2 linked regions of the Homo sapiens genome follow. The protein of the gene in region 1 interacts with the protein of each later gene in a pairwise test. Each region holds a gene or a part of one and is shown on either strand. Other genes may lie near its edges.

The links. The genes of interacting proteins can lie anywhere in the genome.
Region 2: the proteins of PKNOX2 (region 1) and C10orf88 interact in binary tests that used the Homo sapiens proteins (3 or more experiments, as listed by UniProt).

Annotation. Positions count from the first base shown.
Region 1 is NC_000011.10:125,162,982-125,166,734, forward strand, and holds the start of PKNOX2 (homeobox protein PKNOX2), read left to right. Parts: upstream 1-1,769; 5' UTR 1,770-1,795; intron 1,796-3,753.
Region 2 is NC_000010.11:122,933,583-122,937,335, reverse strand, and holds part of C10orf88 (ATPase PAAT), read left to right. Parts: intron 1-3,753. UniProt on the Homo sapiens protein: ATPase that regulates mitochondrial ABC transporters ABCB7, ABCB8/MITOSUR and ABCB10. Regulates mitochondrial ferric concentration and heme biosynthesis and plays a role in the maintenance of mitochondrial homeostasis and cell survival.

The DNA of each region.
Region 1 (3,753 bases):
CCTCCCTTATCTGAAGAGGGCTTCCCTCTGAGAGTTTATGGCAGCCTGACCTCCAGCCTCTGGGTTGGAGAATCTGGCCGCTTCTGTACCACATAAAAAGGGCAAGTGCATTCATTATTATTATATTATTATACAATGTATAATATATAATAGCGATTATGCTGTCAGCAGCCAGAGACTCTGACTGCAGATCAGAGGCTAGGGTGACATAAATCCACCTAGTGAAGTTTTTGAAGGTTCTATGTGAAGGTGAGAGGATTCTAATCTGTCTATAATGGGGGCTACCACTGAAGAGTTTCTCCCACAAGCAACGTTGGTGGGTGGATTTGAGGGTATTGGGAGGATCTGGACAAACAGTAGTGTGTGTATCTGGGATGTGATATAAGAAGGGTCTCAATTGCCTCCCCTGAGCCAGGCAATGCTAACAGCTCTCATCCTTGCCCATGACGGAGGCGGGTGAGTGGCGACCCAGAGGCCTGAGAAGAGCTCAGGGGCAGCCTTCAACTTCTTGGGTCAGATTCTTTACTGAAAACCCAGAGGCTGGGTTTCACTTTCTGCTTTCCCGCTTTTGTCGGTGTCTTTGTCTGGGCTTCTTCCAGGCCCCCTGCCTGGCCTGGGGTCAGAGGATCAATGGCTGCCTGACTGGCTGAAAGGGCTCCTCTATGGGGAGCAAGAAGCAAACTTCCAGAGGCAGAAGGGGTTCTCTTGTCCCTTTATGCGGAGGGCCATGTGCTAAGTTGAGGAAGCAAGCAAGTGTGCTCCTGTGTGTGGCTCTTAGTAGGACTGTGATCTCTGCTGAGTGAATGGAGGCGCTTGTGGGTCTACACATGCCTGCTTTTGTCTTCCACTGTAGAGGGCATGTAAGGAGCCCATTTCCTCCCTGATGTAGATGAAGCCACCCCAGCAGGCCCAGGCTGAAACAGCCCAGCTGGTCTTTCCCTTTATATGACTGCACCCCAGCCCCCAGAACTCTGGGAACTCACTGAGTTTCTTGAGGACTTTTTATTAGAATGAAAATAGCAGTGGCTTAGAACAGGCTTGCCTGACATTTGCAAAGAAGTGCTTTACTGACAAAGCCTATCCACTCTTTCCTCTCTCCCTCTGCCCCACCTTGAACCAGACACCCCGGGAAGCCCACAGCAGAAAAAGCTCTTGAGACCAGGAATAACTAACCAGAGTGTCATCTGAACACCTTTTCTGGGGCCAGGGTAATGAGAATTATTCAAATGCAATCATAAAAATGAGGCCAGCCAGGCAGGAAAAGGGGGAGGGGGAGTGCTGGTGGAAGGAAGGATTTCTTGCCCGTTTTAAGTTTCATCATTTCTGGGGAGTTCTCTTGGGGTCCACAGAAAATCTCACCTCATCTCGGTCCCCTCAGCACCGGTGATATCTTGGAACTCGGCCCCGGTTGTTCGCTAAGGAGGACTTGGCTTGGGGGCGGGAGGGTGCTCCAGAGTTCCTGGGGGTCCACCGCACTCCCCATCCGAGGCTCCTCGCGAGCGGAGCCGCTTCTCCAGGCCGCCCGCCTCCCTGCCGCAGGAGCAGGCCCGCGCCCGCCGCCCGAGAGCCTCCGGTAGAGGGAGACACTCCAGCGGCTCCTCCGACTTGGCAGCGGCCGGGCCGGGAGTGGGTGGGGGTGATGGGGGGTGGGGAGAAAAGGGGGAGTGGGGAGAGGGGAGGTGTGTGAAGGGGGGGTCCGGGGGGCGGGTCCCTGTGCCGCTGACGTCCCGAGCAGTGCTGGGAAGTATAGGCTGTGTTGTCACGCCGGTGTCAGTCTGATGAAGATTGGCATCAGGTAAGCTGTCATTCATTTCCATGTCAGAGACGCTTTTGCAGGCGGCGGCGGCGGCGCGGCGGCGGCTGCTGCTGCGGGCGGCTGCCTCAGAGCGCGTGTGTTTTATTCCAGTCCCCAAGCCAGAGTATTATTCATTGCGACAGGGCAAGGAGGAGAGAGGGAGAGAGGGAGGCAGCAGGGAGGAGAGAGAGGGAGGCAGCAGGGAGGAGGGAGGCAGGGAGCAGCGAGGGACGGCGGGAGCGTGCAGAGAGAAGCTGGGGAAGCGCCGGGAGAGCGCGGAGCGGAGCAGCGCGAGGGGCGGCGAGGCCGGGCACGGAGGCTGCGAGAGCCCCGCGGGCCGCCCGCTCCCCTGCCCGGCCAGCGCTCAGCCCCGCCGCCGCCGCCGCCGCCGCCTCGCCGCGCTTGGGCCCGTGGCCGGCCGCGCATTGTCCTCGGGTGCAAGGAGCCGGGCTGCGGACTCGAATCGCCGCGGGCCCAACCCCGTAGCGGGCGGGCGGGGAGCTGTGCGCCAGGAGCGCCAGGGGACCCGAGAATAGGAACAGGCACGCCGGCCCGAGCCCGGGTGCAGAAGGCTCCCGGCCGGGCGCTCCGCGGGGAGAGGCTGGGAACCGCGGGCAGGCTCCAGGTTCTCTTTCTCCCGGCTTCGGGCGTCCTTGGGGCCGGCGCTTACTCCGCGCCACCAGCCTGGAGATGCTTTCCAGCGGCTGGAGGCGGGAGCGGTCCCAGGCTGGGGCCAGGTGACCGGAGGAGTCGAGGAGCCGCGGCCGCGGCCTGGGGAGGCAGGGCGAATGAGGGTTTGCAGACGGATCAGTGGAGACAGGGGAACACCGGCGGGGCCCGGGAAGCCAGGATCCGAGGGGCTACACGCACGGACCCTCACCCAGGGAGGAGCGAGAATGTGTAGGGTCACCGGCTTTCCATGATTGCTGGGGATCTTTGGTGAGGCGGGCGTAGGGGCCCGCGCGAGGCTTGGGAATCGGGAGCCCTTCTGGCTCGAGAACTAGGGGATGAGTTCGTAAAAGAGGGAACTGAAAGCGATCGAGAGCGGAGAGCTGAGGGGGATGGCGCAGGATCCCGAATCTGCCGCTCAAAGTTTGCATTTCTTTCGGGTTAGGAGACGGGCTTTCCTGGCTCCCGATCCCCAGGAAGAAACGAGCGAAATGGGCCGTCCTTTCCCGGGGCTCTTCACGGGGGAGCCGGGGGTTTCCGCGCGGTGGGGAGACTCGGGTTGGGAATTGAGGGGTAGGGGCTTGTGGATCGGCCTGAATTAGGGCTGGGTTTTAGGACCAGTCTAGAGTTCGGTTTATAGGATCCAGACTGTTTACGGAATCGGGATCGAGGGGCCGATAAGTAGTTTACACGCCGGCCAGAGCAGAGGGCTGGAGGTCGGAGTTGGGGGCTGGAGGAACGGGTGGCGTTTTTAGGATTCAGTAACAGGATCACAGCTTTTTCTTGTGGTGGAAGCTATTGGAATTTGGGGAGGGTAGCACGAGGGGTCCTGCAGCTCCGCGTGTGAAAAAGCGTTTAGGTAGGCGATGAAAGTAGTTGATCTGAGCCATGGCAGGCGAGCCCCGAATTTTTGCTGCTTCCCCCTGAAAGTGTTTCTTTAGGAGGAGAGGACTTGGGCCACACAGGACCCGGTCCTAAGAGAGCGATTCCGGGAAGCGGACAGATCGAAGAGACCTTCTGGGCGAAGCGGCAGGGCAGCCTCGCGGGGCTGGGAGTGGATCTGAGGTCCCGACCCAGGCGGCTCGGAGTGCTCCAGGAGCCACCTGGGTCTGCGGGCGCAGCGCGGCGGGGCGGGAGCGGTGGCCCGCAGGGGCCGCGGCCTGCGATGAAGGCCGGGGGGCAGCGCTAGCAGCGAGGTGCCACAGTGGGCCGAGGAGTCTGGGCTGTGGCCCAGGGTAGGACCGGCTCAAACTCCAGTGCCCTGATTGGAGCCGCTTCCTGTGCTTACC
Region 2 (3,753 bases), on another chromosome or scaffold:
TTGTGACATTTTCCTTGAAGATTATGTTTGGTCTAGGCAAATTCCTGATTATTAAAAAACTATATTAGGATAATAATCACTTGTAGTTTACAAGCTATTATCCCCAGTCTCTTAATCCCTTATTTTGGCAGTACATATTTGATTAAGAGATAGCTAAGTATTATGTTCCTAATTGCTTAAGTAGATATAGTATGTCAAAATGGTGTTCTAGACTAGAATTCAGGACTCTAGGTGTGGTTTTGGCTTAAACATGTTGCCACACTGTTTAGTATTCTTTAGCCTAAGAGATTTTATTTGAAAATGAGGTAGTTGGATGATTTTGTAACTAAACGCCACCACCAACCAACAGGATTGAGTTGACATTTATAGAGAACTCTACCAACAATAGCAGAATATACACTTTTTTCAAGCATCTATGGAAGATTTGCAAAGATAGATTATATCTTGAGTCACAAAGCAAATCTGACCAAATTCAAGAGGATTGAAATAATACAATGTGTGTTTTCTGACCATAAATGAATCTAACTAGAAACCAATAAAAGACAACAAAATTTCCAGATTTTTGGGAATTACACAGCATTCTTAAATTTATGGTTCAAGAAAAAGTCTTGACAGAAATTAAACCTATTACACAGAAATGAATGAAAATACAACACATCAAAATTTGTGGGATGCAGTTAAAGAAGTATTGATAAGGATATTTATAGCACTAAATGATTACATTAGAAAAGAGGATTGTTCTTAAATCAGTAGCGTAAAGCTACAGCTCAACCAAAATAAAATAATCTGAATAGTCCTATAACCATTAAAGAAATTGAATTTACAATTTTAAAGCCAAGCAAACTGATCTTAAAGCAAGCAGAAAGAAGGAAATAATAACAGAAATCAGTGTAACTGAAAACAAGCAAACAAAATCAATGAAGCCAAAAGCCAGTTCTTTGAAAATTTCAATAAAATTGATACACTTCAAACAAGACTATCAAAAGATAAAAAGAAGATGCAATCATCAGTATCCGGAATGTAATGAGATGTCACTACTGATCCTAAGGCCGTTAAAAGATAACAAGGGAGGGAATATTACAAACAAATTTATGCTCATAAATTTGACAACTTAGGAGAAATGGATTAATTTCCCCAAAACCACAAACTACCAACCAAACTCAGCCAACATGAAATAAGTAATAAAATAGTCCTATAACCACTAAAAATATTTGATTAATGATTGGAAAGCTCATGAAAAAGAAATATCCAGGCCCAGATGGCTACACTGAAGGTTTCCACTGAACATTTAAAGAACATCAATTTTACATGCTTTTAAAAACTAGAAGAGGAGGGAAGATGTTCCAACTCATTCTGTGAAGTCAGTATTAGCCTGACACCAAACTAGATTGCCCCCCAAAATTAAAATACACAAAAATGCATGTAAATATATGTAAAATATGTAAATCTATAAAAAATACTTATAAAATATATGAAAAAATTTATAAACCTAACAAAATATATAAGGATATGTGAAATGAAAATTATAAAATACTGACAAAGGAAAAGAAAAGCCCTAAAAACTGGAGAGACATACCATATTCATGGATTTGAAGACACAGCATAGTAAAAACGTCAATTCTCTCCTAGTTGATATATAAATTTAATGTAATTCCTATGAAAAATCGAGCATGATTTTTTATAAATATGAATGAGATGATTCTAAAATTTAGAAATGGAGAATTTTTTAAAATGGAAAAATAAAGGAACTATAAAAAATTTTGAAAAAGTGTAAGAGAAATCACTACTTGATTTCAAGACATAGCCACAGTATTCAAGACTGTGTTATTGTCAGAGGCATAGACTTATAGATGGATAGCACAGAAATAACTCTGCACAAGTACACCAACTGACGTTTGACAATGCAAAAATAATTCAATACAGGTAGAATTGTCTTTTTAACCTGTGCTGGAACAGTTGGATATCCACAGGCAAAAAATGAATTGTGACTTAAATCTTATACTTTATGCAAAAATTAACACAAAATTACTTATAGATTAAAATGTAAAATATAAAACTATAAAGCTTTTCTACAGGAGAAACTCTAGGGACCTAGGACTAGGAAATGAGTTCTCAGATATGACATCAAAAGCGTGATCCATAAAATAAAAAACTGATTTATTGGGCCCCATCAAAATGTAAAACTTTTGTTTATGAAAGACACTGTTAGGGGAATTAAAATACAGACTGGGAGAAATTCTTTGCAAATTACAAATCCAGCAAATGACCTGTCTCTGAAGTACATAAAGAACTCTCAAAACTCTATGTTAAAAGCAAATAAAAATAAAACCTAACAATCCAATTTAAACCATGGGCAAAAGAATAGTCATTTCAACAGACAGGATATACAAATAGCAAATAAGCACAAGGAAAGTTGATCAACATTGACTTAGTGACTATTAGGGAAATGCATATTAAAACCACAATATATCACTACATATTTGGATGGCTAAAATTTAAAAATGGTAACAATACCAAATGCTGACAAAGATGTTTGGGAACTGGATCTCTCATACATTGTTGGTAGGAATATAAAATGGTACAGTCACTCTAAAAAATATTTTGGCAATATCTTAAAAACTAAACATACAGTTACCGTACAACCCAGCAATTATACTCCTGGACATCCCAGAGAAATGAAAGCTCAGGTCCACACAGAAACTTGTACACAGTTATTAATAAAAGCTTTCTTTGTAATATCCCAGAAGTCCCAACTAAAATGTCTTAGCAATAGGTGAATGGTTAAACTATGGTACCTCCATATCACGCAGTGCTGATGAGCAGTAAAAAACAACTTGGACATCTCTCAAAGGCATTTTGCTGAGTGACAAAAGAGAATCTCAAAAGGTCACATACTGTATGATCTCACTTTATAATATTTTCAAAATAATAAAACTGTAGAGATGAACAACATATTGATGGTTACCAGGTATTAGGGAAAGAAGACTTTAGGGGAGTAGGTATGACAATAGAGGGGTAGCAGGGAGGAGATCATTGCAGTTAAAGAATGGTTCTGCCTTTTGATTATGGTGGTGTTTAAATAAATATGTGTACATATGATAAAATGGCATAGAACTATACACACACATCATATTAATATCAATTTCCTGGTTTTGATATTGGATTATAGGTAGATAAGATGTGACCATTGGGAGGATTGGATAAAGGGCACTGAGAAACTAATATCTTTGCAACTTCCTGTGAATCCATAATTATTTCAAAATACAGAGTTTCTTAAAAACTGTCTTTGGTGTATTCTAGAGTAGTGGCTCTCAGACTTTTGGTCTTTACACTCTTAATTGAGGACTCCAATAAACTTATGTAGGCTACATAAAAATATTTGTTTAAAAATAACAATAAACCCACTGTATATTAACATAAATAACAGTCTTTATGAAAAAAAGCCAGATTTTCTTTTAAAATTTTATTGAGAATAGTATTATTTTAAATGTACATGAATCTATACATAATAGCTTTTGGCTGCATTATCATGTATATTGAATTATAGCATGTATAGTGAAATATAGCTAGTAAGAGCACAGTAGGAATACTGAGAACAGAGTGGATTAATCTCTGAAAAAGCATATATTTATACACTAAATCTCTACTACCTTGAAATTTTAGGAAAGAAGAATACACAACTACAGATTCTGTTAGTCATCAGGGCAATAACATAGATTTTGTAGCCTCTGGAAAATTCATGAGTATGAGGAT